4 linked regions of the Homo sapiens genome follow. The protein of the gene in region 1 purifies or fractionates together with the protein of each later gene. This does not show direct contact. Each region holds a gene or a part of one and is shown in the gene's direction. Other genes may lie near its edges.

Evidence for each region.
Region 2: the proteins of FOSL2 (region 1) and STK40 purify together in Homo sapiens (affinity purification with mass spectrometry; 4 studies listed by BioGRID and IntAct, with this or other methods). This does not show direct contact.
Region 3: the proteins of FOSL2 (region 1) and ANKRD17 purify together in Homo sapiens (affinity purification with mass spectrometry; 4 studies listed by BioGRID and IntAct, with this or other methods). This does not show direct contact.
Region 4: the proteins of FOSL2 (region 1) and COP1 purify together in Homo sapiens (affinity purification with mass spectrometry; 5 studies listed by BioGRID and IntAct, with this or other methods). This does not show direct contact.

The regions. Positions count from the first base shown.
Region 1 is NC_000002.12:28,409,711-28,416,975, forward strand, and holds part of FOSL2 (fos-related antigen 2), read left to right. Parts: intron 1-762; coding exon of another isoform or gene 763-865; intron 866-2,168; coding exon of another isoform or gene 2,169-2,219; coding exon 2,220-2,738; 3' UTR 2,739-7,265.
Region 2 is NC_000001.11:36,382,722-36,390,013, reverse strand, and holds the start of STK40 (serine/threonine-protein kinase 40), read left to right. Parts: upstream 1-4,089; 5' UTR 4,090-4,291; intron 4,292-7,292. UniProt on the Homo sapiens protein: May be a negative regulator of NF-kappa-B and p53-mediated gene transcription.
Region 3 is NC_000004.12:73,087,601-73,094,865, reverse strand, and holds part of ANKRD17 (ankyrin repeat domain-containing protein 17), read left to right. Parts: intron 1-637; coding exon 638-787; intron 788-2,565; coding exon 2,566-4,199; intron 4,200-7,265.
Region 4 is NC_000001.11:176,204,120-176,211,520, reverse strand, and holds the start of COP1 (E3 ubiquitin-protein ligase COP1), read left to right. Parts: upstream 1-4,234; 5' UTR 4,235-4,542; coding exon 4,543-4,949; intron 4,950-7,401. UniProt on the Homo sapiens protein: E3 ubiquitin-protein ligase that mediates ubiquitination and subsequent proteasomal degradation of target proteins.

The DNA.
Region 1 (7,265 bases):
CTTTGGAAAACATCCCCTCACACTTTTTTTGTTATTATAATTTTTTTGAGATGGAGTTTCGCTCTTGTCGCCCAGGCTGGAGTGCAGTGGGACGATCTCAGCTCACTGCAACCTCTGCCTCTTGGGTTCAAGCCATTCTCCTGCCTCAGCCTCCCAACTAGCGGGGATTACAGGTGCCTGCCACCATGCCCGGCTAATTTTTGTATTTTTAATAGAGACAGGGTTTCACCATGTTGGCTAGGCTGGTCTCGAACTCCTGACCTCGGGTGATCTGCCTGCCTTGGCCTCTCAGAGTGCTGGGATTACAGGCGTGAGCCACCACGCCTGGCCCATCCCCTCACTTGAGTTAATGTTTCCAGGTACCATCCACCCACTTAGGCTTGTCTTTCTCTGTCCTGCAGCCCTCACTCTGGGGTGTTGAATGAATTGAATTGCGTGAATTCTGTGATGCCTGTAGTAATGGCCCTCGGAGGTGTTAGAGCCGGGGAGGATGAGTGGGAATTCTTCATTCCCAGGTGAGGCAGATCCACAATCCACTTCCTCAGCGGGCCCTCCCACCACTAACCTTTCTGTGATTGGCACTTCAAGGAGCTGTGCCCCATGTGGCGCTCCTCACCACCCGCCCCGGAATAGCCCTGCCCCCTGAGGCTCCTCTACTTTCCTTCCCTCCTCCCAGAGGCCTCACACCCTACTCCCCTGCCTCCCCCACCTCCCCCGCCCTCTGACCCAGCCACCCAGGCCCCTGAGCCACATCCTCCACAGGAAGCCTCTCAGAAGCTCATGACGTTCGTCAGACCCTTGAGACAGACGGAAACTGTTTTTCACTCCGGAATATGCTGTCCTCTGCTGAACGAAGCCCTTGCCCGTATGTCCTCACTGATGAACAGGAATCCATGTTAGGGAAAACGTGGGGAGGAGGCTGGTGACACACACCTCTTCCCCTCCCACAGCGGCCCCTCCACGTGCACTTGCTCGCTTCTGCTTCTCTGGCTGGGGATGAAAGAAGGGGGCTGAGGTCCTTGCGGGGTGACCCTGGCATCCTCACAGGCCCTCTCGGGCTGTCACGTTACTTCTGTGTCAAGCGTGGTGGCTGAACCAAATGTTCTCTGAGGGTTCTGGGAGTCCTGAAATATGTGCTTAAGAAATTGGAGCAAAAGGCCAGGCGCCGTGGCTCATGCCTGTAATCCCAGCACTTTGGGAGGCTGAGGCGGGTGGATCACCTGAGGTCAGAAGTTCAAGACCAGCCTGGTCGATGTGGTGAAACCCCATCTCTATGAAAAATACAAAATTAGCCGGGTGTGGTGGCAGGTGCCTGTAGTCTCAGCTACTCGGGAGGCTGAGACTGGAGAATAGCTTGAACCCGGGAGGCAGAGGCTGCAGTGAGCCAAGGTCATGCCACTGCACTCCAGCCTGGGTAAGACAGAGTGAGACTCTGTCTCAAAAAAAAAAAAAAGAAAGAAATTGGAGTGAAAAAAGGGAGGAGGAGAGGCTGTGATAATCCCACAGGGATTTGCTGAGCACTTCTGAGAAGCCAGGCACTGTTCTAGGTGCTAGGGATACAGGAGTGTGCATGACAAAGTCTCCACTCTCTAGCAGCCTAGGGCTTAGCGTTTATCCATCCACAGGTGGGCTGGCATGGGGTTGGGGAGTAAGAGAAGGAGAGAGGTGGGTAGAGCTGTGTTCCGTACCCCCTTCTCCATGCAGATCTCTGCAGTACTCACCCCTCAGGGGTACCGAGGGGGCAGTCCTGGCACCAAGGCCATAGAACATAGACCCTGGAGTCAGATACATTGGGAATCAAATCTGGGCTACCCCACCTGCTAGCTCGGTGACTTTGGAAAATTAACAGAACCCCTCTGAACCTCAGTTTCCTCATCTGCAAAATGGGGCGATGATAACATCTGCTTCCAAAAAACTCCTGGAAGATTGAATGAGATCATCTCTGAAATGCTTAACACTGTGCCCTGCACAAAGTAGGTGCTGGGTTATGGCAGCTGCAGTTGTTGTCTTACCCCCTCTCCAAGCTGACTTTCCTTCTTTGGAAATGAAAGGAATCTTGAGCCTCCAGGTGACTGAGAGACTCAGACCAGCGGGGTCTGTGGTTAGGTGTGTGAGCCTCTGCTCTCACAGTGTCTGAGAACATTACTGGTTTTCTCTTTCCTGCCTAGATTGGTCCCTGGCAGGTTGCTGTCCCTCACATCCCTCTCTTTCCGTGGCAGGAGACAGAGGAGCTGGAGGAGGAGAAGTCAGGCCTGCAGAAGGAGATTGCTGAGCTGCAGAAGGAGAAGGAGAAGCTGGAGTTCATGTTGGTGGCTCACGGCCCAGTGTGCAAGATTAGCCCCGAGGAGCGCCGATCGCCCCCAGCCCCTGGGCTGCAGCCCATGCGCAGTGGGGGTGGCTCGGTGGGCGCTGTAGTGGTGAAACAGGAGCCCCTGGAAGAGGACAGCCCCTCGTCCTCGTCGGCGGGGCTGGACAAGGCCCAGCGCTCTGTCATCAAGCCCATCAGCATTGCTGGGGGCTTCTACGGTGAGGAGCCCCTGCACACCCCCATCGTGGTGACCTCCACACCTGCTGTCACTCCGGGCACCTCGAACCTCGTCTTCACCTATCCTAGCGTCCTGGAGCAGGAGTCACCCGCATCTCCCTCCGAATCCTGCTCCAAGGCTCACCGCAGAAGCAGTAGCAGCGGGGACCAATCATCAGACTCCTTGAACTCCCCCACTCTGCTGGCTCTGTAACCCAGTGCACCTCCCTCCCCAGCTCCGGAGGGGGTCCTCCTCGCTCCTCCTTCCCAGGGACCAGCACCTTCAAGCGCTCCAGGGCCGTGAGGGCAAGAGGGGGACCTGCCACCAGGGAGCTTCCTGGCTCTGGGGGACCCAGGTGGGACTTAGCAGTGAGTATTGGAAGACTTGGGTTGATCTCTTAGAAGCCATGGGACCTCCTCCCTCATTCATCTTGCAAGCAAATCCCATTTCTTGAAAAGCCTTGGAGAACTCGGTTTGGTAGACTTGGACATCTCTCTGGCTTCTGAAGAGCCTGAAGCTGGCCTGGACCATTCCTGTCCCTTTGTTACCATACTGTCTCTGGAGTGATGGTGTCCTTCCCTGCCCCACCACGCATGCTCAGTGCCTTTTGGTTTCACCTTCCCTCGACTTGACCCTTTCCTCCCCCAGCGTCAGTTTCACTCCCTCTTGGTTTTTATCAAATTTGCCATGACATTTCATCTGGGTGGTCTGAATATTAAAGCTCTTCATTTCTGGAGATGGGGCAGCAGGTGGCTCTTCTGCTGGGGCTGACTTGTCCAGAAGGGGACAAAGTGCAATACAGAGCCTTCCCTACCCTGACGCCTCCCAGTCATCATCTCCAGAACTCCCAGCGGGGCTCCCTGAGCTCTCAAGGAGATGCTGCCATCACTGGGAGGCTCAGAGGACCCTTCCTGCCCACCTTCGGAGACGGCTTCTGGAGGAACGGCTTGGCCAGAAGACAGGGTGTGAGTGAGACAGTGGGGCACAGGTTGGGTTTGCCAAACGCCTAATTACCAGGCCAGGAAGCATGCCAACAAAGCCACACGGGTGTCCTAGCCAGCTTCCCTTCACCTGGTGTCTTGAGTAGGGCGTCTCCTGTAATTACTGCCTTGCCATTCTGCCCCTGGACCCTTCTCTCCGGACCAGGGAGGCGTCCCTCCCTAGGAGCCACACATTATACTCCAAGTCCCTGCCGGGCTCCGCCTTTCCCCCACCCTGGCTCTCAGGGTGACGCCACCCACAGAGATTTAATGAGCGTGGGCCTGGACCTTCCCCAGATGCTGCCAGGCAGCCCCTCCCCAAGCCTCAAAGAAGCATTTGCTGAGGATGGAGAGGCAGGGGAGGGAGGCGGGAGGCCGTCACTGGAGTGGCGTCTGCAGCAGCTGCTGCCCCAGCACCCGCTCAGCCTGTCCTGGCTGCTCACCTCCCCGCAGGGCACCGGGCCTTTCCTGCCCTCTGTGGTCATCTGCCACCTGCTGGATCAAGTGCTTTCTCTTTTACACTCCCCTGTCCCCACCCCAGTGCACTCTTCTGGCCCAGGCAGCAAGCAAGCTGTGAACAGCTGGCCTGAGCTGTCGCTGTGGCTTGTGGCTCATGCGCCATTCCTGGTTGTCTGTTGAATCTTTCTGGCTGCTGGAATTGGAGATAGGATGTTTTGCTTCCCACTGCAGGAGAGCTGCCCCCTTTCACGGGGTTGGGGAAGGGTCCCCCTGGCCTCCAGCAGGAGCACAGCTCAGCAGGGTCCCTGCTGCCCACCCCTCTGAGCCTTTTCTCCCCAGGGTATGGCTCCTGCTGAGTTTCTTGTCCAGCAGGGCCTTGACAGGAATCCAGGGAGTAGCTCCTGGCCAGAACCAGCCTCTGCGGGGCTTGTGCTCTGCAAAGACTCTGCTGCTGGGGATTCAGCTCTAGAGGTCACAGTATCCTCGTTTGAAAGATAATTAAGATCCCCCGTGGAGAAAGCAGTGACACATTCACACAGCTGTTCCCTCGCATGTTATTTCATGAACATGACCTGTTTTCGTGCACTAGACACACAGAGTGGAACAGCCGTATGCTTAAAGTACATGGGCCAGTGGGACTGGAAGTGACCTGTACAAGTGATGCAGAAAGGAGGGTTTCAAAGAAAAAGGATTTTGTTTAAAATACTTTAAAAATGTTATTTCCTGCATCCCTTGGCTGTGATGCCCCTCTCCCGATTTCCCAGGGGCTCTGGGAGGGACCCTTCTAAGAAGATTGGGCAGTTGGGTTTCTGGCTTGAGATGAATCCAAGCAGCAGAATGAGCCAGGAGTAGCAGGAGATGGGCAAAGAAAACTGGGGTGCACTCAGCTCTCACAGGGGTAATCATCTCAAGTGGTATTTGTAGCCAAGTGGGAGCTATTTTCTTTTTTGTGCATATAGATATTTCTTAAATGAAGCTGCTTTCTTGTCTTTTATTTCTAAAAGCCCCCTTATACCCCACTTTGTGCAGCAAAGATCCCCGTGCAGGTCACAGCCTGATTTGTGGCCAGGCTGGACAAATTCCTGAGGCACAACTTGGCTTCAGTTCAGATTTCAAGCTGTGTTGGTGTTGGGACCAGCAGAAGGCAAACGTCCAGCCAACACACAGGACTGTAAGAGGACTCTGAGCTACGTGCCCTGTGAAGACCCCCAGGCTTTGTCATAGGAGGTCGTTCAGCTTCCCCAAAGTCAGAGGTGATTTGATTTGGGGAAGACTGAATATTCACACCTAAGTCGTGAGCATATCCTGAGTTTTACTTCCTTATGGCTTGCCCTCCAAGTTCTCTCTCTCATACACACACACACCCTTGCTCCAGAATCACCAGACACCTCCATGGCTCCAGCTATGGGAACAGCTGCATTGGGGCTGCCTTTCTGTTTGGCTTAGGAACTTCTGTGCTTCTTGTGGCTCCACTCGCGAGGCAGCTCGGAGGTGTGGACTCCGATTGGGCTGCAGGCAGCTCTGGGACGGCACAGGGCGGGCGCTCTGATCAGCTCGTGTAAAACACACCGTCTTCTTGGCCTCCTGGCCAGTCTTTCTGCGAATAGTCCTCTCCCTGGCCAGTTGAATGGGGGAAGCTGCTGGCACAGGAAGGAGAGGCGATCCCGGCTGAGGCTTAGGAAATTGCTGGAGCCGGCTCCAAGCAGATAATTCACTGGGGAGGTTTTCAGAGTCAAACATCATTCTGCCTGTGTTGGGGGCCAGGTGTGTCACACAAGCATCTCAAAGTCAAAAGCCATCTGGGGCTGCTGCTTCTGTTTCTCAGGCTCTGGGGAAAGGAATCTCCCTCTCCTCTCACTTGATTCCAAGTGTGGTTGAATTGTCTGGAGCACTGGGACTTTTTTTCTCTTTTCCTTGATGGACCAACAGTGCAAATGCAATCTCGCCATTTAACTTTCAGGTCGATTTCCTTTCCTGATCAGACATCTTTGTGCCCCCTTTAGGAAGGAAAAGAATACACCTACGATGTGCCAGGCACTGTGTTAGGCGCTTTTATATAGATCCTCGTTAGGATGAGACTAAGGGATGAGGACATCTCTTTATAAAAGGCCCCTAAGTAATGGATAAACAGAAACACTTAGAGGTGAGAAGGTCTGTCTTCAAGATCCAAGGTAAGATTGCCTTCAGTCTGATGTTTGTTCTCAAGGACTTATCCCCTACAATATTCTCCCACTCCATACTTCTCCTTCTACCCCACCATGTGCTCCCGTGCACTCCTCAGATGGTCAGAGGGGTAACCCAAGTCCTTAGAGAATTTGGGGACCAATAGAATATGTGATGTGTGAATTTTCTTTAAAAAACTTAAGGAGTCTTTGCTACCTTCTGCTTGTTGAGTTGTTTTGGCATTCATATTAAAAGCCAGCATCTCACTATTTATTGACAGGTTGGGCTGTGTGTGTGCGCATGTGTGTATACATTTCCAGGCGTGCCTGTGTCCTGTAGCTTTTTAAAAGGAAACCCAGTCATCCCACTATGAATCTGGCATCTTCTTATGCTTCTAGTGTTTTGGCCATACATCAACCAAGGGGTTTAATTTATCCAATGCTTGACGACATGTTCAGGAGGGGCTGGATCAAATTTTGAGAGGGTTATGGGAAAGGGAGGGGGAGAAGAAATTGACATTTATTTTATTATTTATTTTAAATGTTTACATCTTCTTTATGTTGTATCAAGCCTGAATAGAAACTGATAGCATTAAAATACTCCGTTCCTCTCTCTCTTCTCGCTTCCTTTTTTTTTTTTTTTTTAAATTTAGGATAACACATTTTTGTTTCTAAAGTGATTTGTGATTTGTGCTGTATAAACTGTATAAAAGGTTCTGTTTTTAAAGGTGGATTTTCATTCCTCTGGGGACAGTGGTCGCCAAGACATCTACATTGTAAGAGAACACAGTGGAAGATCCTGTCCTGATTCTCAAAAATTATTTTCTCTGTATGATTAAAAGTTTATTCCATTTATTTTAGTTTGTGTTTACTTGATTTTGAGGAAGAAAATATTTGACTTTGTGTAAAGAGTAGGGTATCAGGGTGTCTTTTCTGCCGTGGGAGATGTGTATATATATAGTATTTTGGTGTATAGTAGAAAATAAGCTTTGTGCATCTGTATTTGAGATATGTTAATGACGTGGAGTAAAGTCAGCTGTAAGACTCTGGAGGCAAACAAGTTGTATATGGTTCATATGGCTCTATGGGGAATTTAATTACCTTTCTGGGCACTTTTTTTTTTTTTTTTTTTTTAAGTA
Region 2 (7,292 bases), on another chromosome or scaffold:
GCTCTTCCTTTCAAGGTGCCAAAGCATGGGAAGCATAGTCTGATTTGGTCATCCAGTCACACTAGCATCCACTGAGATGTTCTCATCTGGTTGTGACCTTTTGTCATCAGCCCATGAAGGTTGCTGCTGAGTTGCTCCCCATCCCCCCACCAAAAGACCCCTCCAAGTGTAACCCATACCCCTCTCAGGTGTGCAGAGTTTTGTTTTGTTTTGTTTTGTTTTTCTGCTTTCCCCAGGCCATGTTAGGCCTAGGAAATTCTTGAGTCTTAGGTGAGTTAGGCCCTGTTTGTCCAAAATGCAGCATGCAGCCATTTCTCCAGAGGGTTTTGTGACTTCCCTGGTGCCCCACCCAGGAAAAGGAGCACAGCTCCTCTCTGCTTCTCAATCCCTTGGACCCAGATGATATTCCCAGTTACAAGACTGAGGAGAAGCTTCTCTCTTCTCAGGGACCCCCCTCCTCAATCTCAGACTCCCAGATCCCCGTTATAGTTTTCTAAATGTGTGTCTGCACAGAAATTCTGTCCATTCCTCCCTGAAAGCTAAGCTTTTGGAATTCAGAAGCTAAAAATAGGCCCTGCATTCTGTTGTATCATTTGTTTCCCGAAGTAATGAATACAGAGTAACTTATCTGTGTAAGAGAAGGAGGGAGAACACCAAGGAAAAGATGAAAAACAATGCAAAGTGTTACTGTCCCACCAGATTCTGGATAGTGTGGAGGCAGAGGGAAAAAGACTAAAAAAGGCTTTGAAGGTGGGAAAGTTGGGAACTGCTGCTACTGACCCAGTCCAACTCTGTCATTTTACAGCTGAGGAAACTGAGGCTCAGAGAGGGAAAGGGGCTCTCCCCAGGTCCCATGGCTAAGTTAGAGGCAGAGTGCCAAGATGGGCACCATAATGGTCATGAAAAATAGCTACTGGCCAGGTGCAGTGGTTCACACCTATAATCCCAGCACTTTGGGAGGCTGAGGTGGGAGGATCACTTGAGCCCAGGAGTTCAAGACCAGCCCTGGCAACACAGTGAGACCCTGTCTCTATAAAAATTTTTTTAAAAATTAGCAGGATATGGTGGGACACACCTGTAAGTCCCAGCTACTCAGGAGGCTGAGGTGGGAGGATCTCTTGAGCCTGGGAGTTTGAGGGTGCAGTGAGCTGTGATTGTGCCACTGCACTCCAGCCTAGGCAACAGCAAGACCCCGTCTCTAAAATAAAATAAATGAAAAATAGCTACTCTTTGTTGAATTTTACTACTTGCCCTGTGCTGGGTGCTCTGATGCTCCACAAGGGCAGAGCTGTTGTCTGGTTATGCCGAATCTCCAGCATCTAGCTCAGTGCTCTGCACATAGTGGGCACTCCATCAATCTTGTGGAATGAAAATAATCCTTTTTTTTTTTTTTTTGACATGGGGTTTCACTCTTGTTGCCTGAGCTGGAGTGCAATGGTGCGATCTTGGCTCACTGCGACCTCTGCCTCCCAGGTTCAAGTGATTCCCCCTGCTCAGCCTCTCAAGTAGCTGGGATTACAGGCACCAGCCACCACGTCCAGCTAATTTTTGTATTTTCAGTAGAGACGGGGTTTTGCCATGTTAGCCAGGCTGGTCTCGAACTCCTGACCTCAGACAATCCACCCACCTCGGCCTCCCAAAGTGCTGGGATTACAGGAGTGAGCCACTGCGCCCAGCCCTGAAAGTAATCTTATTATATCATTATAAAAACCCCATATATTAATAGCACCATTTTACATTTGAGCAAACCGGCTCAAGGAAGTTATGTGGCCTGCTCAAGGTGAACAACAGAATGGGGATTTGAACTCAGGTCTGTGTGACTCCAACTCAATGATCTTAACTGCTGTGCTATTCTGTTTCCCAGCACTCTTGGCATCATACTGATGACAGAGTATAAGAGGTGCCTTTGTTCACCACAGTGGTGGTACCTAGCCACAGGGTGTAGGTCTGACACTCAAAATTTGCCAGATTTAGGCCTTGCGATTTGGTGACAAAGAGAAGCCAGAGCCAACCAGTAATGGAGACGAGGGTTCAGAAGCCTGAGGAAGCCCCTGGGGGTTGAAGGTCTCTTTCCCTCCTTCTGTGATAGGCAGATCTGCCTATACCTTGTCAAGCCACCATCTCATGCTGTTGTGACAGGCGTCACTTTGTTATGGCAGCACCGTCTGCCGTAAGCCTAGAGTTGGAGAGCCAGCAAGAGTATGTCAGCGTGAGTGTGAGTGTGTGTGTGTGTGTGTGTGTGTGTCCCAGCGTTCTCCTCATGGTAGTGTCCTGATGACAGTTTCTCATTTCCTCTGGCTGGCACCTTTGGTTTCTATTCATTACTTCTTCTCCTCCTAGCTTTCTGTTCCTCCTCCTCTCCTTTGTTAAAATCCTGGATTTTCAATCAGCTGAGAGTCTCCTGGGGGTAGGAATGGTGGTGTCAGCGCAGAGTGATTCATCTAGCTGATAATTAGAGCTCTGGAAAACCCAGAACTCATTTTTGTCAGAGTCAGGGCTTCCGGAATCCCTAGGCTTTTTGTTTTGTCAGAGAGTGGAGCTTGCTGGGCTGGGGCCTTCTTTATGCCTGTCTTTTGGTCACCCACCTCATTGAAGCCCTTCAACTGAGATGAGTATGAGTGCTCGCTGGGTCTTGCAAAAAGCTGTTTCTATAACTCCGAGTCCTCACAGTGATCCCCCAAGCGTTATCCCTGTTTGGACAGAAGGGGAAGATTGGGCAATTTGCACATAGTCACCCAGCTTGTAAGTGATGCAGCAGGGATTCAAAGCCAAGTTTTTTGGAATCCATCAGACTTGATTTGAATCCTAGCCCTGCCATTATTAGCTGTGTGTGTTTGGGCACATTAATTTCCTTCTCTGAGCACTGGCTTCCTCAGCTGTAAACAGCCTCCTACCTAATACTGTCTCAAGTGCTCCATGCAGAGTGTGGCACAACGGTGGGAGCTGTCCTGATTACTCTTGTTAGTCAGCCCTATCAGCAGCTCAGTGGGCACCAGGCATTCAGAGACAAAGGACACAGGTAGAGGCAGCCAGACTTCACTCATATCAGCTCTTGTGTCCTGGCACTGCCTATGTGGAGATGACAAATGCACATACACACAAGTGGCCACACACCCTAGGAAAACCCAGCAGTGCACACAAGCTTAGACACGTGTGCCCACACATGGATATAGAGTGACCCAGGGGACAGCTGGAAAGACAGCCAAGAGTTAGACATCATAAGCAGCAAACACCCTGACTCACACCTCTGGGACAAGGGAGTGGGGCTACGGCCGCTGGTGCTGCTGCCACTGAGCCCTTCTAGCTGCTTCTGCATGCCAAGGGAGGGAAGCCAGGCTCTTAGAGGGCCCCAGTGAGTCACTTGCCTGATGCAATCCCTTTAAAGGGCTCATCTGCTGGTGCAAGAAGCTGATTCATGGAGGGCGTGGTTGCTGGAGGAGGAGGAGAAAGGGACCGAAACTGCAGCAGGAGGAACTGAGGTTAGATAGCTGTAGTCGCTAATAGGAACGCTTCACTGTAAACCTCCCTGGTCAAGGCTTCAGGGATCTCCAGGTTGAAGGTTGCCATCCTCGGGGTTTCTACAAAGGCGACAGACCTAGAGGGAAATGAATTATGAGCGCTGCGACAGGAATTTCTGTCTTTTATTGAGCCTAACTGCAGGGCTTTCCTCACAGAGTTCCACAAACCGGGAAATGAGGATCAAGGATGAGTCACTTTTCTGATAAATACACTACAATTGGCCGATCTTCCAACCGCTGGGGACTTCAACCTCGGCAGGGGGAGTGTAGGGCCCGCGAGGTTCTGTGGGGTCGGGCGGGGCGGTGCCTCCGTCCCAGCCTCGCCGCAGATATAGATCAGCAGTAAGTACCGCCCCATTAGAGCCTCGGCCTCCAATCGTGTAACAGGTTTCGCCCAGACCCCACCCTGAACCAATCCTCAATCGGACTCTGGCCTCTTGCCTGAAGTCTTCCGCCCATCGTCAAGATGGCGCCCCAATCCGAAAGCCGTGGGGCTGGAGACGCAGGCGGAGGGCGGGGCCCGGGGGGGCGGGGCCGCGGCTAAGGCTGGGGAGGAGGGGGGCGGTGCGTCACTTCCGTTGTCAGGTGGCGGCGCCGCAGCCATGGAGGGAGGCGGCGGCGGCGGCGGCGGCGGCTCGGGTGGCTGCGCTGGGAGGCGGCGGTGAGAGGCTCGCACGCCTCCAGCCCGGCCCCGGCCCCCCGGGAGGGAGAGCCGAGCAGCCCCGGCTCTGGGCTACGGACTATGGGCGAATAGCTCTGACCACCCGGCGAAGGTGAGGGCAGGGGTCCAGGAGCGGGGAGCCGGGTGGGGGTTGCGGGTAGGCGGGGCGGGCCCCGGCGGCCGCGGCGGTGGAATCGGAGTGACAGCCTGAAGCCATCTGAGTGCAGCAGAAATGGCCCCGGCGAATGCCCCCTCCTCCGCTGGGGCTCTGCCCTTCCCCGGCGGCAGGGGCGAGGGCTGCCTCGCGCCGGGTACCGGGAGGCCGCGGGAGCTTCAGTCCCCGCCGCAGCTCTGGGAAGTGGGCACTGCCAGCTTTGCCTAGAGTCACCCAGCCAGTGAGTGAAGCAACCGGCGTGTGAATCCAGCCAGATCTTTCCAAAAAGACACCTTCTGCCTCTCCGTGTTTCCCTCCTAATCCCGAGGGTGACTTGATAGTTAGAACGAGTCCCCAGGGAGGGCCAGCCAGGGCTTCCTCCAAGAGCCCTCACTCTGGCACGGGCGCTACCGCTGCTGGGGAATTTTCATATCCCGGGCGGCGTTCAGGTACGAGTCACAGCTACCTGCTTGCCAAGGCCACGTTTGGCCGGCCTTTTCCAAGGAGAGCTTGCTGTGGTCAGTGTTTCACCTGCCGAGCCGGTCAGGCCCGCCCATTCCCACGCCACTTGGCCCCGCCTTCCAGCCAGTTAGGTAGGGACATTCGGATTCCTGATGCCGAGTTTTCTGCCCACCCCAATCCCCAGGTTTGAAGCCCTTTTGTTAGCGGAAGGAAGAGATGACAGCCGCCCTCTGTGTGGCAGGATAGACTTTGCTCTGTTTTAAGTCACTGGAGGAAACCGGTTGGCTTTGCTTTGGTTTTGAGAACCAGTGGGGAAGAGGGTAGGCATACTGGGCTGGGCGCCTTTCCCTCTTTGAGTAGTTTTGCGTGAGATAAGGAAGAGCAGAATGTGTAATTGTAGGGCCAAAATAATCTTGTTTGTAAACAGTGCCTGTGAGCTCCTTTAGTGCTTCCTAATGGCCGTGCTGTGCAAGTTGTTGGTTGGGTTAATCTAGACAGTCCTCATTCATTCATTCATTCATTTCTCACATGACCACAACAAGAGTCCTTGCCTAGAGGCAAGTGCTAGACAGCATAGTGGTTAAGAGTAGGCTTTGGAGCCAGACTTCCTGAGTTCAAATTCTGGCTCAGCAACTTTCCAGCTGTGTGTACCTGGGCACATTGCTTAGTCTCCCTGTGCCTCAGTGTCTTCGTCTATAAAACAAGGATGATAACAGAGAGAGATATTATGAAGAGTAAAAAGTTAACATGTAAAACATACAACCATGTTTGCCACGTAATAAGAATTCAATAAATGTTATCTATTTTTATTTCAAGGAGCATACAGTCTAATTAAGGGAAATTGACCTGTAAACAAATGGTTGAAATGTGGTCTAAAGAAGCTAGTAGTGGCTGGGCGCCGTGGCTCATGCCTGTAATCCCAACACTTTGGGAAGCCGAGGCGGGCGGATCACCTGAGGTCAGGAGTTCGAGACCAGCCTGGCTAACATGGTGAAACCCCATCTCTACTGAAAATAGAAAAATTAGCTGGGCATGGTGGCACAGGCCTGTAATCCCAGCTACTCGGGAGGCTGAGGCAGGAGAATTGCTTGAACCTATGAGGCAGAGGTTGCAGTGAGCCGAGATCAAGCCAGTGCACTCCAGCCTGAGTAACAGAGTGAGACTCTGTCTCAAAAAAAAAAAAAAAAGAAGAAGAAGAAGCTAATAGCAGCAGCAAGAGAGTACTGTGGGAGCCCAGTGGAGAAAGGGAGAAAGCTGTGAGCTCAGCCTTGGGGGTGGGGTGGGGACGGGAGTGTGCCATGAAAAGGCTTGGCAGAAGTGATGCTGGAGCTGAGTCTAAAAGGAGAGGAGGGGAGGCTTAGCCAGGTGAGAATGAATACTTTGAGAGCGAGATAGACAAATAAACTCATAGTTTATTCCAGAAATCTCAGATTGTTCAATCTAGTGGTATGGAAGTTGATATGGTGCAAGTGAAGCAGTATAGGTTCATGAAAGAATGCCATATTAGCAATTTGAGATATCATGCCCAGGGCAGCCGGGAGCAAGTGAAAAGGTCTGAAGCAGAGGAATGACATGATTGGTTACATATTTTAGAAAGATTTCACTGGAGTCCCAGTAGAGGAGGGAAGGAGGAGGACAGGAGCGACTGAAGGGCTGGAGAACTCTTCGGAGACAAACCTAGGCTTCTGAGAGAGGAGAGTTGGTGCTGGGGCGATGGATCTTTGCTGAGGAAGCACCATGTGCAACCAGTGCCAGATGGCAAGCTCCTGCATTGGCCTGGGCTTCTCTGCCTGGCGCAGAAGTGCCTGGCACATGTGCCCCTCTCTTCCTGGGATTGTAGGTTGCTTGAGCAGCTGGAGAGATAAGACTGCCCTCTCAGAAGGCCAGTTGTAAAGGGTGCTGTGTTTGCTAACTTGTGCTTTTAATCTGACCTTTGGGGAAGGCAGTAGATTGTAATAGTTAAGAGGTTATTTGAGGCCGGGTATGATGGCTCACGCCTGTAATCCCAGCACTTTAGGAGGCCGAAGTGGGCAGATCACCTGAGGTCAGGAGTTCAAGACCAGTCTAACATGGAGAAACCCCTTCTCTACTAAAAATACAAAATTAGCCGGACGTGGTGGTGCATGCTTGTAATCCCAGCTACTCAGGAGGCTGAGACAGGAGAATCTCTTGAACCTGGGAGGCGGAGGTTGCGGTGAACCAAAATTGCATCATTGCACTCCAGCCTGGGCAACAAGAGCGAAACTCTGTCTCAAAAAAAAAGCTTATTTGGCTCTGCCATCAGACAGATCTGTGTTCTACTTCTATCCCTGCTGGTCACTAGGGATTACTTATTCTCTCCACCACAGCTTTCTCATCTGTAAAATGGGGACAATAAGAGTACCTTCGTAATAGGGCAGTTGTGAGGAGTAAGTAAGATGTTACAGGATGAGTACTTAACAGACACTGAGTAGTAAATGTTAGCTCTTATTACAGGCTACAGGAAAGAACTTTTAGG
Region 3 (7,265 bases), on another chromosome or scaffold:
GAGTTATGTATATTAGAGAATAAAAAGAAGCATATGAGTAAAGCACCAAAAGGGGCCCACAAGAAGTCTTTCTTGACTCTTGAGGCTAGATTAGATGCCCAACCAGTATATATACACACACACATATAATATATATATATACACATATATACATGTATATATTATACGTATATACATATATATGTCTATATATACATATATGTATATATAATACATTTGTGTGTGTGTACACACATACTATTGCAACACTCATGACATGGTGGTGTTTTCATAATTAGCGTGTAGATAGTCAATATATGTGGGCAGAAACCCATGTCTGTCTTATTTACCGTTAGTATTTGCATTAGCACAGCACGTGTCTACATAGTATGTGCTTTACCGATACAAGTGAAGAATGATAATCAACAAAGCAAACAATCTTTGATAGTGAGATGAGAAGCTATAATAAAGCTTATCTGTCTGTTGCTCCTGATTGCCTTTTCTCTGTTCATCTAGAGTAAGAGTAAATAGAAGAGGCTTATTCAACAATATTCTGTATTTATAGAAAGACATTTTAGTAATACTCTTTCCTCTTTTAAAAATTACAATAACTATTGTTAATGACTAATCTTAATTTATATATACAACTTTTAAACAGGTCAAAGAAAGTATCTGTTCCATCAACTGTGATATCCAGAGTGATTGGAAGAGGAGGCTGTAATATCAATGCTATTCGGGAGTTTACTGGTGCACACATAGATATTGATAAACAGAAAGACAAGACTGGAGACCGGATAATCACTATAAGGCAAAACTTTGTCTCTTACATTTTCTTCCTTTATTTTATTGCACTATAGCTTAATGAAATACAGCCATATGAGTTTTCAGTGGAACTTTGTGTTACATAGTATACTTTTTAAAATGGGAATTTTATTAGTGTTTGAGAAGATAAATTTTATAGTTTTCTTTTTTCCTAGGTAATACACTTTTGTGAAGTGTTTCAGAGACTTTTATAGGAATTTGTATGCATGTGTAGCAAAGGTTTAAATAAATAATTTCTGTACATAAACTGTTTATATGACATTCTTAAAAATTTGTTCTGAGACTTTTAGGGAGCGCATTTCTAACATTTTAAGCAGTGGGTTTTTGTCTTTCTCAAATAACCTTTGAGATTTGTTATTCTGAGATTGTGTCTTTAGAATTTGAGTTCTTGGGCTGGGCACGGTGGCTCACGCCTGTAATCCCAGCACTTTGGGAGGCTGAGGCGGGCGGATCACCTGAGGTCAGGAGTTCGAGACCAGCCTCAACATGGGGAAACCCCGTCTCTACTAAAAATACAAAATTAGCCGGGCATAGTGGTGCATGCTTGTAATCTCAGCTACTCGGGAGGCTGAGGCAGGAGAATTGCTTGAACCTGGGAGGCAGAGGTTGCGGTGAGCCGAGATCGAGCCATTGGACTCCAGCCTGGGCAACAAGAGTGAAACTCCCTCAAAAAAAAAAAAAAAAAAAAGAATTTGAGTTCAGATTTGAATCTGAAGTGAAGATATAACTTATCTTGAATAACTCGTCGAATATGTCTATGCCTGAATATTCTTAAAATAAAAGTGATGTTCTAAGAAATCATAAGAATGTAGGAAGCTATATTTAATTACTTTAAAGTAAATTCATGTTCCTTTGAAAAAGAGTTTTATATTTTTTACATGGCAGATATAAGTTTGTATGAGGCAGATGCCCCTTTGCATTATATAGGAGAGCTAATAGTTACATCATACCTCAAAAATAAGAAAGCAAGTAGCCATCTCTATTTTATTCATCGTCCTCTCCTTCTGACTGGTTTTCCCCTGGGTATTTGGGTAGTCACAGCCTATCTTATCTAGAAAAGAGGGAACCAGATACCCTTTATTGGTAATTGCTCCCTTGAGTTTCCATAAATATCAAATATTTTCCTGAAGATCCAGCACTAAGGTTTTATATGGCTATTTTTGGCACTATCAGGATTCCTGCATCATTTTAAGACATCTTCCCAGAGGAGTTACAATAATTATCCTATTAATAGACAAACTACTAATGAATTTTTAGTAGACGGAGTCATCCCAGATACCAAGATTTAAAATAAAATACTGTTTTCTTACTCAGTTGTATTATTTTCCTTGTTTACTTCTATTATTTTTAGTGTTGATTAACTGTTTCAATATTTTTAGGATTAAATGTTTCAATAACATTGTGGATTACATAGGCTTTTATGTGCAGTGGTTTTTCTAACTGTAGTGTATTTTACAGTAGGAAAATGGTTTCTTAGTCTAAGGAAACAATAGTGAAATGTATTTTTGAAAAATAAGTCATTTACTATTCTTCTGAAAAATAAAAGTAGTAATTCAGGACAGTTTATTGCTTTGTTTGTAGAATACCTCAGGAATGGTAAGAAAATTGCTGCCCAGCTTTTGTTATCTGTCCTTTGTTTGTATGTGTGTATGTATATACACACAAAACTGTGTGTGTGTTTGTGTACATAAATACATATTAAAAACACTTTACATACTCAAAAGTAGGGAAAATTCTACCTAATTTTTTTTTCTCAATTTATAGGGGTGGCACTGAATCAACAAGACAAGCAACTCAATTGATTAATGCTTTGATCAAGGATCCAGACAAAGAAATTGATGAACTTATTCCAAAGAATCGTTTGAAAAGCTCCTCAGCAAATTCCAAAATAGGGTCATCAGCACCTACCACCACTGCTGCTAACACTTCCTTAATGGGAATTAAAATGACAACTGTAGCTCTGTCATCAACATCTCAAACTGCCACAGCACTCACTGTGCCTGCAATTTCTTCTGCATCCACTCACAAAACCATTAAGAACCCAGTGAATAATGTGAGGCCTGGTTTTCCAGTTTCTCTTCCATTAGCATATCCTCCTCCACAGTTTGCACATGCTTTGCTTGCTGCTCAGACTTTCCAGCAGATCCGTCCACCAAGGTTGCCCATGACCCACTTTGGAGGTACTTTTCCACCAGCTCAATCCACTTGGGGTCCGTTTCCTGTCAGGCCTTTGAGCCCTGCCAGAGCTACTAACTCGCCTAAGCCTCACATGGTGCCTCGCCATAGCAATCAGAATAGCAGTGGTTCTCAGGTGAATTCAGCAGGTTCTTTAACTTCAAGCCCAACAACTACAACCAGTTCATCAGCTTCAACGGTGCCTGGTACATCTACAAATGGCAGTCCAAGTTCACCTTCTGTCCGAAGGCAGCTTTTTGTCACAGTTGTGAAGACATCCAATGCCACCACAACAACAGTCACAACCACGGCAAGCAACAACAACACTGCACCCACAAATGCCACATATCCTATGCCTACTGCCAAAGAACACTATCCAGTATCATCCCCATCTTCCCCATCACCACCAGCCCAGCCAGGAGGGGTTTCTAGAAACAGCCCTTTGGATTGTGGATCAGCATCTCCAAATAAAGTGGCATCTTCCTCCGAACAGGAAGCAGGTAGTCCACCAGTAGTAGAAACAACAAACACTAGACCTCCAAACAGCAGCAGTTCTTCTGGGAGTTCATCAGCTCATTCTAATCAGCAACAACCTCCGGGATCTGTTTCTCAGGAACCAAGACCACCTCTTCAGCAGTCTCAGGTTCCTCCCCCGGAAGTTAGAATGACTGTTCCTCCTTTAGCAACAAGTTCTGCTCCAGTGGCGGTGCCTTCTACTGCCCCAGTGACTTACCCTATGCCTCAGACACCAATGGGATGCCCCCAGCCTACTCCTAAAATGGAAACCCCTGCTATTAGACCACCCCCTCATGGCACAACTGCCCCTCACAAGAATTCAGCTTCAGTGCAAAATTCATCTGTTGCAGTCCTCAGTGTCAATCACATTAAAAGACCTCACAGTGTTCCCTCTTCTGTCCAGCTACCTTCGACCTTAAGTACACAAAGTGCTTGTCAGAATTCAGTACATCCAGCAAATAAGCCTATTGCTCCCAATTTCAGTGCCCCCTTACCATTTGGGCCCTTTAGCACATTGTTTGAAAACAGCCCTACTTCTGCTCATGCCTTCTGGGGAGGATCTGTTGTTTCATCTCAGTCAACACCAGAATCTATGCTATCAGGAAAATCCTCATATTTGCCAAATTCAGATCCTTTACATCAGTCTGATACTTCCAAAGCTCCAGGTTTTAGACCACCATTACAGAGACCTGCTCCAAGTCCCTCAGGTGAGTTTATATTTTCTGAGATTCTGCAGCTGTTCATTTGCACAAGTGATGTGAAAATTCTTGGTCATTTTCTAATATTTTTATTCTCTGGACGATATAGACAAAGATTGTTGGATTTAGTTAACTCAGATGCTGTTGTTTGTGTTTAGTATGGTGTTATTTTTAAAAATCTTTTTAAAAGCTACCATAGATTTTTATTTAATTTTCCATAAATAAGTCTTCTGATCAGGCGGGGTTTTTTTGTTTGTTTGCTTTTTGAGACAGAGTCTCGCTCTGTCACCCAGGCTGGAGTGCAGTGGCATGATCTCAGCTCACCGCAACCTCTGCCTCCCAGATTCAAGTGATTCTCCTGCCTCAGCCTCCCGAGTAGCTGGGATTACAGACGTGCACCACCATGCCTGGCTGATTTTTGTATTTTTAGTAGAGATGGGGTTTCACCATGTTGACCAAGCTGGTCTCGAACTCTCAACCTCAGGTGATTCACCCACCTTGGCCTCCCAAAGTGCTAGGATTACAGGCGTGAGCCACAGTTCCTGGCCTAGGCGTGTTTTTCTCTCTCAGAAGTCTTTCATGTTTTAATTTAATAAGGTACTGTCACCAAAAGTTTACATTTATTACAAATACAAAATAACAGATTTAAAAAATTGGGTTTCATTTCGCATTATCTTTTTTATTTCTAAAATAATTTTAAAAATAGAGCTACACAGTCTGATATGGTAGCCAATAACCATGTGTACTTTTTAAATTTAAATTAATGAAAATTTTAAAAATAAAAAAATTAGCTTCTTAGGCTACCCATATTTAAGTGCTTAAAAAACACTTGTGGCTGGTAGCTACCATATTGGACAGCAAAGATCTAGAACATTTCTATTATCCAAAATTCTACTGGGCAACACTGATATATGTAGAAGATACAAAGATCTCCTGATTGTAAGCTATTGCTTTTTTAAAAAAAACTTTTTACTTTAAAATATTTTTAGATTTATAGAAGAATTCTATAATTCCTCAGCTTCCCTTCATGTGACCATCTTACATAACCATGATACATTTCGAAACTAAAAAAATTAATATTGGTGTAGTACTACTAACTAGACTACAGATTTTAGGCAGATTTCACAAGTTTTTCAAGTAATATCCTTTTTCTATTGTAGGATCTAATCCAGGATGCCAGTTTCCATTTAAAGCTGTTGGGTTTTAATATAAGCATTTCAAGTAATTAAAGATAGTCCACGTAAGAGATGGACACACTATGGTCTATGGGCCAAATTTGGCCTGCTGCCTGTTTTTACATTTCTTAAATGTTTAAAAAAAAATTTTTTTTTTTAAGAATAGGCTTGGCACGGTGGCTTGTGCCCGTAATCCCAGCACTTTGGGAGGCTGAGGTGGGTCGATTGCTTAAGCCCAGGAGTTCCAGACCAGCCTGGGCTTAAGGGGAGACCCCATCTCTACAAAAATATAAAAATTAGCTGGGCATGGTGGTGCATACCTGTAGTCCCAGCTACTTGGGGGGCTGAGGTGGAAGGATGACTTGAGCCCTAGAGGCAGATGTTACAGTGAGCTGAGATCACACCTCTGCATTCCAGCCTGGGTGGAGACCCTGTCTCAAAAAAAAAAAAAAAAATTTAAAAAGAATAAACATGCAACACAAAATATGAAATTTTAATTTCAGTGTTTGTAGAGAAAGCTTTACTGAAACACAGCAATGCCCATTCATTTGCATATTGTATAAGGCTACTTTTATGCTACAATGACAGAATTGAGTAGCTGGGACAGAGACCATGTGACCTGCAAAGCCTAAAATATTTGGTATTTGGCTCTTGGTTGCCAACTCGTTATCTGTGTTATTGGAAATATGACATTCCGGGACAAAAATTTCCAAGTTTAATGGGAACTCAATGTTATTTTTACCTATTTCTGTAACATGTAAATAAAATTTAATGAAGGTGGTCAGTAAATATTCTTTGCTAAAAGTCAACTGAAATATTTATGTGTACTATGAAAAATAATTTATTTTATATTAAAACAATAGAATCAATATAATTAGATTTTAGATCATTATGTGCCAGTGCGTAGGAAATGCTTTAAGTTTGATTTTTATAGTAGTTGGAATTTAATACTTTACCTTTCCAAAAATGTGATAATCTAGGTGTGGGATTCAGAAAGGCTAAAATTAAGCTTTAGAGAACAAAAAAATAAATTCCTATTTTTTGAAAAGGTATAGAAGAAAGACCTCTGTAAGAAAGGTGAGGTTTTTAGGGAGTGTATAGTTGATGAGAGCCAAAATTAGCATTGAAGTTTAACTTACAAGTCAATTACCTAATTCAGGTCATTTTGAGTTAAAGATACTCCTTTTATTACATAGGAAGTATGTCCTTTTATTTTCTCCTAAACCTCTCTCAGATCCTAATTTTCACTTCTCTCTACTTCTTCCTAATTCATTTTGTGTTCCATATTTTTCTTCCTTTGTTTAACTTTTCTTATGTAAATAATTTGATTATTTGTATTTTAGACTCAGATCTGTTTTTATAGTTTGTATTTTGAAAAGTTATTTAAGTCACATAAAGATCTAAGGACAGAATAAGCAGCATAGTAAATACTTGGTATTTCCACATTTATTAATATATTCTCTGCTTGTTAACATCTTTTCAAACTCTCTCCCTCACTCCCCTCCCTTCCTCTCTCCCCTTTTCCTTCTTCCCTCCTTTTTTTTCCTCTCTTTTGCTGCTTCCTTTTCTTCCCCCTCTCTTGTCTTGTCTTACCTGTCTCTCCCCTTCTTCATCCTTCTTTCCTCCTTTTCCCCCTTTCTATCCTATCTCTATTTTCTTTTCTTCCCCATCTTTTGTCAAATCATGAGAAGATAACTTTCAAACATGATACTTTACCCCTAAATACTTTGATATGGATCTTCACAATGTTTGCCTTCACAGCTATGCCACTATTACTGCACCCAATAAAATGAGGATGAATTTGATAATAACACCCAACATAAAATGCCATTTTCCCAAATATATTCTTTCTGACTATGTGTGTCTCTTTTCCTTGCCATTTGATCCAAGACTCAATCAA
Region 4 (7,401 bases), on another chromosome or scaffold:
CAATTATGTATTCAGCCAGTACATTTATCTGGTACAAAAATGAAGCTCTATTGCATCACATACTCTCAGCTTCTTTTTGTGAATTTAGATTTTATAAAAAATACATTCCAAAGAGGTAATACTAAGAACTGATGATTTTTTTTTCTTTCCCCCTAGGAGACTTCTCAGTTGGGGTCATACTACTTTCTGTCTCAGCCCATTTTCTGCTGCTATAACAGAATACAACAGACTGGGTAATTTATAAAGAAAATAAATTTATTTCTCACAGTTGTGGAGCCTGGGAAGTCCAAGAGCACGGTGCCTGCATATGGGGAGGGTCACCTCATGGTGAAAGGCCCAAGACAGCATGAGAGACAGAGAGGCAAGATGGGAGCCAAACTTATCCAGTTATTAGGAACCCACTCCTGCAATAACTAACAGTACTCCTCATGACCTAATCATGAGACCTCTTGAAGGTCTCAACTCTCAACACTGTTACAATGGCAATTACATTTCAACCTGAGTTTTGGTGGGTACATTCAAATCACAGCAGTCCTCAGCATAAGCAACTTGGAAGGAAACTCTCACTCTGTCGCCCAGGCTGGAGTGCAATGGCACGATCTCGACTCACTGCAACCTCCACCTCCTGGGTTCAAGCCATTCTCCTGTCTCAGCCTCCCAAGTAGCTGGGATTGCAGGCATGCGCCACCATGCCTGGCTAATTTTTTACATTTTTAGTAGAGATGGGGTTTTACCATGTTGGCCAGGTTGTTCTCAAACTCCTGACCTTGAGTGATCCACCCACCTCAGCCTCCCAAAGGGCTGGGATTACAGGCGTGAGCCATTGCACCTGGCCTGGAAGGAAACTCTTTCACATTCTCTACATTATCAATCACAGGACAGTGTTGTGTTTTTTGTTTTTTTTTTTTTTTGAGACGGAGTTTCACTCTGTTGCCCAGGCTGGAGTGCAGAGGTGCGATCTCAGCTCACTGCAGCCTCTGCCTCCTGGGTTTCTTGGGTTCAAGCAATTCTCCTACCTCAGCCTTCCAAGTAGCTGGGACTACAGGAGCATGCCACCACTCCCAGCTAATTTTTGTATTTTTTTAGTAGAGTCGGGGTTTCACCATGCCAGCCAGGCTGGTCTCAAACTCCTGACCTCGAGTGACCCACCTACCTCAACCTCTCAAAGTACTGGGATTACAGGCATGAGCCACCGCACCCGGCCAATCACAGTGTTTTCAAAGTGTTAGTCACTTGCCTCAGATTCACCTGGGTGCTGGTACAAATGCATATTCATAAGGTGGAGCTCAGAAATCTGGTTTTTAACAAGCTCTCTAGGTGATTCTTCTGGGCACCGATGTTTGAGAATCATGGGGGAAGCAATATGTTTAGCAAATAATAGGTCCATAATAACTATTTGATGATGATATACTATGCCCTTAGTAACTTCCAAATGTCTCTCATGTGCTGAACTTTCTTCTGTGCCTTAACCCTGTGTTTTCGACCACTGCCTATTCTTTGAGTTTTTTTCATCCCACACTCATTCAAAACATTCAAAACTAAACCATCTACTGGACACCTCCAATCTTGTCACTACGTTATTGTTACCCAGAAGTCATGTTTGGAGTCATTTCTGTTTGTGTTTCATCATTTTTACTTAATCAACATATTGACCATTGTGTCAAGCACTGATATAGACAGTGATGAATATGACAGATATGGGTCATACTCTCAAGGATGGTAAAGACAGTTTTACAGAGAGTAATTAAACTTTATACCATCAGTTCCTTAGTGTTTTTCTCAGAATATTCCCTTTCTTTGTCACCATCCTAATCTAGAATCTTATCATTTACGCTCGAACTGCTTTAATTTTTCCTAGTCTTTGTTCCTAATTTCCCACCTCTTCTGAAAGATTAATCTCCTAAAAAATTAATCTTTAAAACATTATAAATGTTTTTACCCTACTTAATGCCTAATTTCCGTGAAAGCTGTCGTAATCAAAATGGAATTATATGGGCTCGGTGGTACACACCTACAGTTCCAGCTACTTGGGAGGCTGAGGCAGCAGGATTGCTTGAGCCCAGGAATTTGGGGGCTGTACTGTGCTATAGACTTGCCTGTGAACAGTCACTGCATCCCAGCCCCATCTCTTAAACAAAAGGGGGTGGGGGGCCCCATCTCTTAAACAAAAGGGGGTGGGGGGCCCCATCTCTTAAACAAAAGGGGGTGGGGGGGCCCCATCTCTTAAACAAAAGGGGGTGGGGGGCCCCATCTCTTAAACAAAAGGGGGTGGGGGGCCCCATCTCTTAAACAAAAGGGGGTGGGAGGTAGTCACTAATATATTTTTTAAAACACTGAAAAATAGATTCAGAGGTCATGAAGAGAAGGGGTCTCATGCTTGCACACCTGATGACAAAAACTATCACAAAAACCTGCAAAAGCCACAATCTTTTTTTTTTTTTTGAGATGGAGTCTTGCTCTGTTGCCCAGGCTGGAGCACAGTGGCACGACCTTGGCTCACTCCAACCTCCGCTTTCTGGGTTCAAGCGATTCTCCTGCCTCACACTCTCGAGTAGTTGGGATTACAGGTGCATGCCACCACACCCGGTTAATTTTTGTATTTTTAGTAGGGACAGGGTTTCGTCATGTTGGCCAGGCTGGTCTCGAACTCCTGACCTCAGGTGATCCACTCGCCTTGGCCTCCCAAAGTGTTGGAATTATGGGCCTCAGCCACCGCACCTGGCCAAAAGCCACAATCTTACACAAAAAATACTTCCGCAAAAACATCTGCCCAGCAACTTCCTGTCCAGTTTCCGACTGGTGTCACCTTGTTATTGATCTTCGTAGCCAAGGATAACGGTTTAAAAACAATTATGTAATTCTCATTTTTTTTTAAATTTTAAAAACCTTTGCCTTCCTTTACCTCCTTGAATACGCACGTAGTTTACTAAGTCATGAGTATTTTCACACTTTATTCCCAAATAAATATATAAGAATCATAGAATGATAGAATTGAAAAGGATAAAATCACACAGTTGTTTCTAACTCCCACCCCTTAGAATGCGGCAAATGAAAAAAATTTTTTTTTTTGAGACAGGGTCTCTGTCTCACAGGCTGGAGTGTAGGGATCTCCGCTCCCTACAGCCTCAACCTCCCCAGCTCAAGCAATCCTCCCATGTCAGCCTCCCGAGTAGCTGGGACTACAGGCCTGCTGCCACCATGCCCAGCTAATTTTTTGTACTTTTTGTAGAGACGGGGTTTCGCTATCTTGCCCAGGCTGGTCTCTAACCTCAGGTTCAGCCTGATCCTCACCTCCAGGCTCAGGTGATCCGACCCCCTAGGCCTCCCAAGGTGCTGCGATGACAGGCATGAGCCACCGCGCCCGCCTATAATCAATTTTCAATATTCTAAAAAAGCCTACCAGAAATTGTATATTTTCTGGTGGTATTAAATGCTAGGTTTCCTTGTTTTGTGCTAGAATTATATCAGATCCACAATAAACCTAGGTTCCGACTGAGCTGGGTCTGATTGAGCAAAATCTGTTTTCCCATTATTGTTATGTTCAATTTGGCAAACAGCTTTTCAAAATATAGGAGTGAAGTCGTGGTCGAACTAATAAAATTGGTAACACTTGCTACAATGTTTGCAATTCGCAGAAAACTTCACTGACTTCATCTTAACTTATTCCTCACAAAGCTGTGGAATCACCATCAGTAGAGCAGGAGTCGTTGGCTCAATGCAGTGCTGTCTGCAACCGCTCGGAGCTTCTAGGTTCTTTCCGTGGGTCTCCAGCTTATGAGCACCTACATTCCGCGATTCGGAAGCACCTGCCTACCCCTCAGAAGAGAGAGACAGCTCCTTCTTCCCGTTCCGGAATGTGGTGCGTTCGCACGCATGCGTGACACGGCTACTCCGCGCTTGCGCCGATATTCTCCGCTTGGGGCGGATACCCTGGGTGACCCGTGAGCGTCCGCGCCCGGCGCGCGCCTGCGCAGTCGCTTTTCGAGAGTTTCCGCCCGCTACGTTCCCGTCTTTCAAACCACCCCACCACCTATACCATTCATTCCAGTCTCCTCAATTCTTTCACTGTATTAAGACGGCCTGCCCTCTGGCACGTTTTCTGGAACGAAAGCGGCTTGGGACAGACAGACTCCCTTCGCCAGGGAGCCCCGACCCCGAGGGCGCGCCCTGAGCGTCTGAGCGCAGCCCCGCTGCGTCCCCAGTTGTATCCCCCGCCACGCCCGCCTCTTCCGCCGCTCGCGCGCGCGCGCACGGCCGGCCACGGCGCGCCGGGGTTGGCTGCTACAGGGACCGCGGTGGCGGCGGCGGCCTCGACAGCGGTAGTGCCTTCTACTCCGCTTTTTTAGTTTCCTCCGCCCCCTCCCGTGGGACGCTGTTGTGTGGCTGCCTTAAAAAAAAACGCAACTTTATTGTTCCTCAGCCCCACCTCCGGCTCGGCGGGCGTCCTCAGGATGCACTGAGGCTGAGGGGAGGGGAGGCGGCGGAGGGTCGAGGTCGCGGTCCCTCTCCTCCGAGCGCCCGGCTGGAGGGGAGGGAGTCACGATGTCTGGTAGCCGCCAGGCCGGGTCGGGCTCCGCTGGGACAAGCCCCGGGTCCTCGGCGGCCTCCTCGGTGACTTCCGCCTCCTCGTCTTTATCCTCTTCCCCGTCGCCGCCTTCCGTGGCGGTTTCGGCGGCAGCGCTGGTGTCCGGCGGGGTGGCCCAGGCCGCCGGCTCGGGCGGCCTCGGGGGCCCGGTGCGGCCTGTGTTGGTGGCGCCCGCCGTATCGGGTAGCGGCGGCGGGGCGGTGTCCACGGGCCTGTCCCGGCACAGCTGCGCGGCCAGGCCCAGCGCCGGCGTAGGAGGCAGCAGCTCCAGCCTAGGCAGCGGCAGCAGGAAGCGACCTCTCCTCGCCCCCCTCTGCAACGGGCTCATCAACTCCTACGAGGACAAAAGCAACGACTTCGTATGGTGGGTTTGAAGAGCACTCCCTCCTTGTCCCTAAATTATGAGTTTCTGCCGCTTAGGCTTGGGGGCGGGGGGTCTGGTGTGGGGGTGGCTTGTTGGAGAGCTTGGGATACTGGTGCTGTGGTGGTGTCTGCAGAGGGAATCGAGCGTTTGCAGGCATTCGAGCTCCTGGTTGGTGGGGTGAAGGAATGTTGGAGTAGCGAGGCAGGGTGGGGATAATAAAGAGGTAGGTAAGTGTTGCTGAGGAGGAAGTGAAGGGAGTTTAACGAATGACGAGGGAAGAGGTGGAAGGTCAAATAAATGGTTTTGGATAACAAAGTTGGCAGAGAGGTTGAGTCTTAAAATTTTTGCCTCTCTGATGAATTGAACACTCAGTCAATCAGGAGTCCTTGTTGAGATGAATGAAATTTGCAAATGGAGAGGACTAAGCTTCCTCGGATGCAGAGGGGTGGAGTTGGTCAAAATTTATTTGAAGTATGGTAGATGATGCTGTAAACATAAGCATGGATGTCTTATAAAGACATGCTTTTTATAATAATGTAAGTACCTATCGTATGTATGTGTAAATATCTTCTTCCATTTCAAAGGATGGGCCACTTAGGAATCGGCTGTTGAGACGACTGTAGTCAAAGTCTGTTAACAGATTTTTCACTTCTCCACCAAGTGTCTTGAAAAGAGAGAACCACGTTTGTTAAATAACATCCCTGTGTCAGATGTAACTGTACTATACTGGATAACAGAGTATACTGGAACTTCTGACTTGAGAAATGCTAGGTATAGACATTTTGTCGTCATAGTTGGCATCTTGAATGATACAGAGTAACATTTAGTCATGACATTTGGGATAGAGAGGTTAGTCATATGAAGTGAAAGGTGGTGTTGATTGTCTTGCTTGAGAGTGTTTTGGAATTTTTATTGGATTTTAGATATTGGTAGGATTATGAGAAGTAATTGCTGTTAGCTAGCTGCTTAAGAAGTGGTAGTGTTTCGTACTTTCCTTTTTGAGGAAATTGTTGATCAAATATTAGGCATGTAGGAAGTTGGCTGCTTGCACAGTCATTATGAGGGAAGTTGATTCAGATCAGGGTTGAAGATGGTCTGAGTTGGTGTTATTAAATAAGATAGAGCTAGAAGTTGGAACTGTTAGGAAAGTTATTGATTAGACTTACGGTTTCTAGTTCCTGCAGAAAAATGATGTCTTTATTCACCTTTCTGCTTTTTTGTACGTTATTCTTTATCAGAATTAATCTGTTTTTCATTGAACATTTGGGCTGTAATATGATTGTTATTTATAAATAAGCAGTTTATGGTTGGGGCTGAGAAGTGTTTGCACTTCTACACAGTCGATAGTGCGAGTAGCTAATAAGCTAATAAAACAAAGTGGGGTGTGCATAATTTAGTTGTCTTTTTAGCCACTGTTTGCATTTTAATTTTTAGTATACTTAACGAACACAAACATGTTAGCCTCCGTGTAAGTACACTAAAATAAAGTAAAAGATGTGAGGAATAAGGAATCGATCATTGTCATTCAAGAGATACTTGTATGACATTCACTGTCGGCCAGGCACCATATGAAGTTCAGTGCACTGCAGGCTATGCTATAGGGAATTGGGAACTCTTTTTTTAAAAGAGTAAAAATTTGTATTTGAGACGGAGTCTTGCTCTGTCACTCAGGCTGGAGTGCAGTGGCACCGTCTTGGCTCACTGCCACCCCCGCCTCCCGGGTTCAAGCAATTCTCCAGCCTCAGCCTCCCGAGTAGTAGCTGGGATTACAGGCACCTGCCACCACACCTGCCTAATTTTTTGTATTTTTAATGGAGACGGGGTTTCACCATGTTGGCCAGGCAGGTCTTGAACTCCTGACCTCAGGTGATCTGCTCGCCTCGGCCTCCCAAGGTGCTGGGAGGGATTACAGGTGTGAGCCACCGTGGTCCTGAGTATTTCACTTTCTAAGAATCTCATTAGTTAATTATTTCTTTTTCTGGTGAGGTTTAATATTCAGAAGAATTAATTAATGAGAATCTGATTTAAAACTCAAGCCAGGTTTGATTTTGTCCAGACTCTTGGGGTAGGATGATATGGATTAGGCAAGGCCCAAGGAATCCTTTTTTTCTTTTTTTTTCCCCCCGTTTGGCTGTGGGTCTTGTCTTGTATGCCCCAAGGTCAAACTGTGAACCAATTCAAATTATTCTATGCTTTTATATTTAAACGAAGCCCAAGTTCAAATAATGATAATTTCTTATTCATTTATGGGACATTTTAAAGATATGCTTATGCTTCACGTTTTATTTTATCCTTAGAACAATTCTGTGATGTTATATATAACTTATTTTTAATACAATACTAATTATTTTCTCATTGAGGCACAGAGAAGTAATTTTGTTTGTCGTTGGACAGGTAAGGACAAAATGAGAACTCAGATTTCCCAGTTCTCAACTTTGTGTTTTCTTTGTGT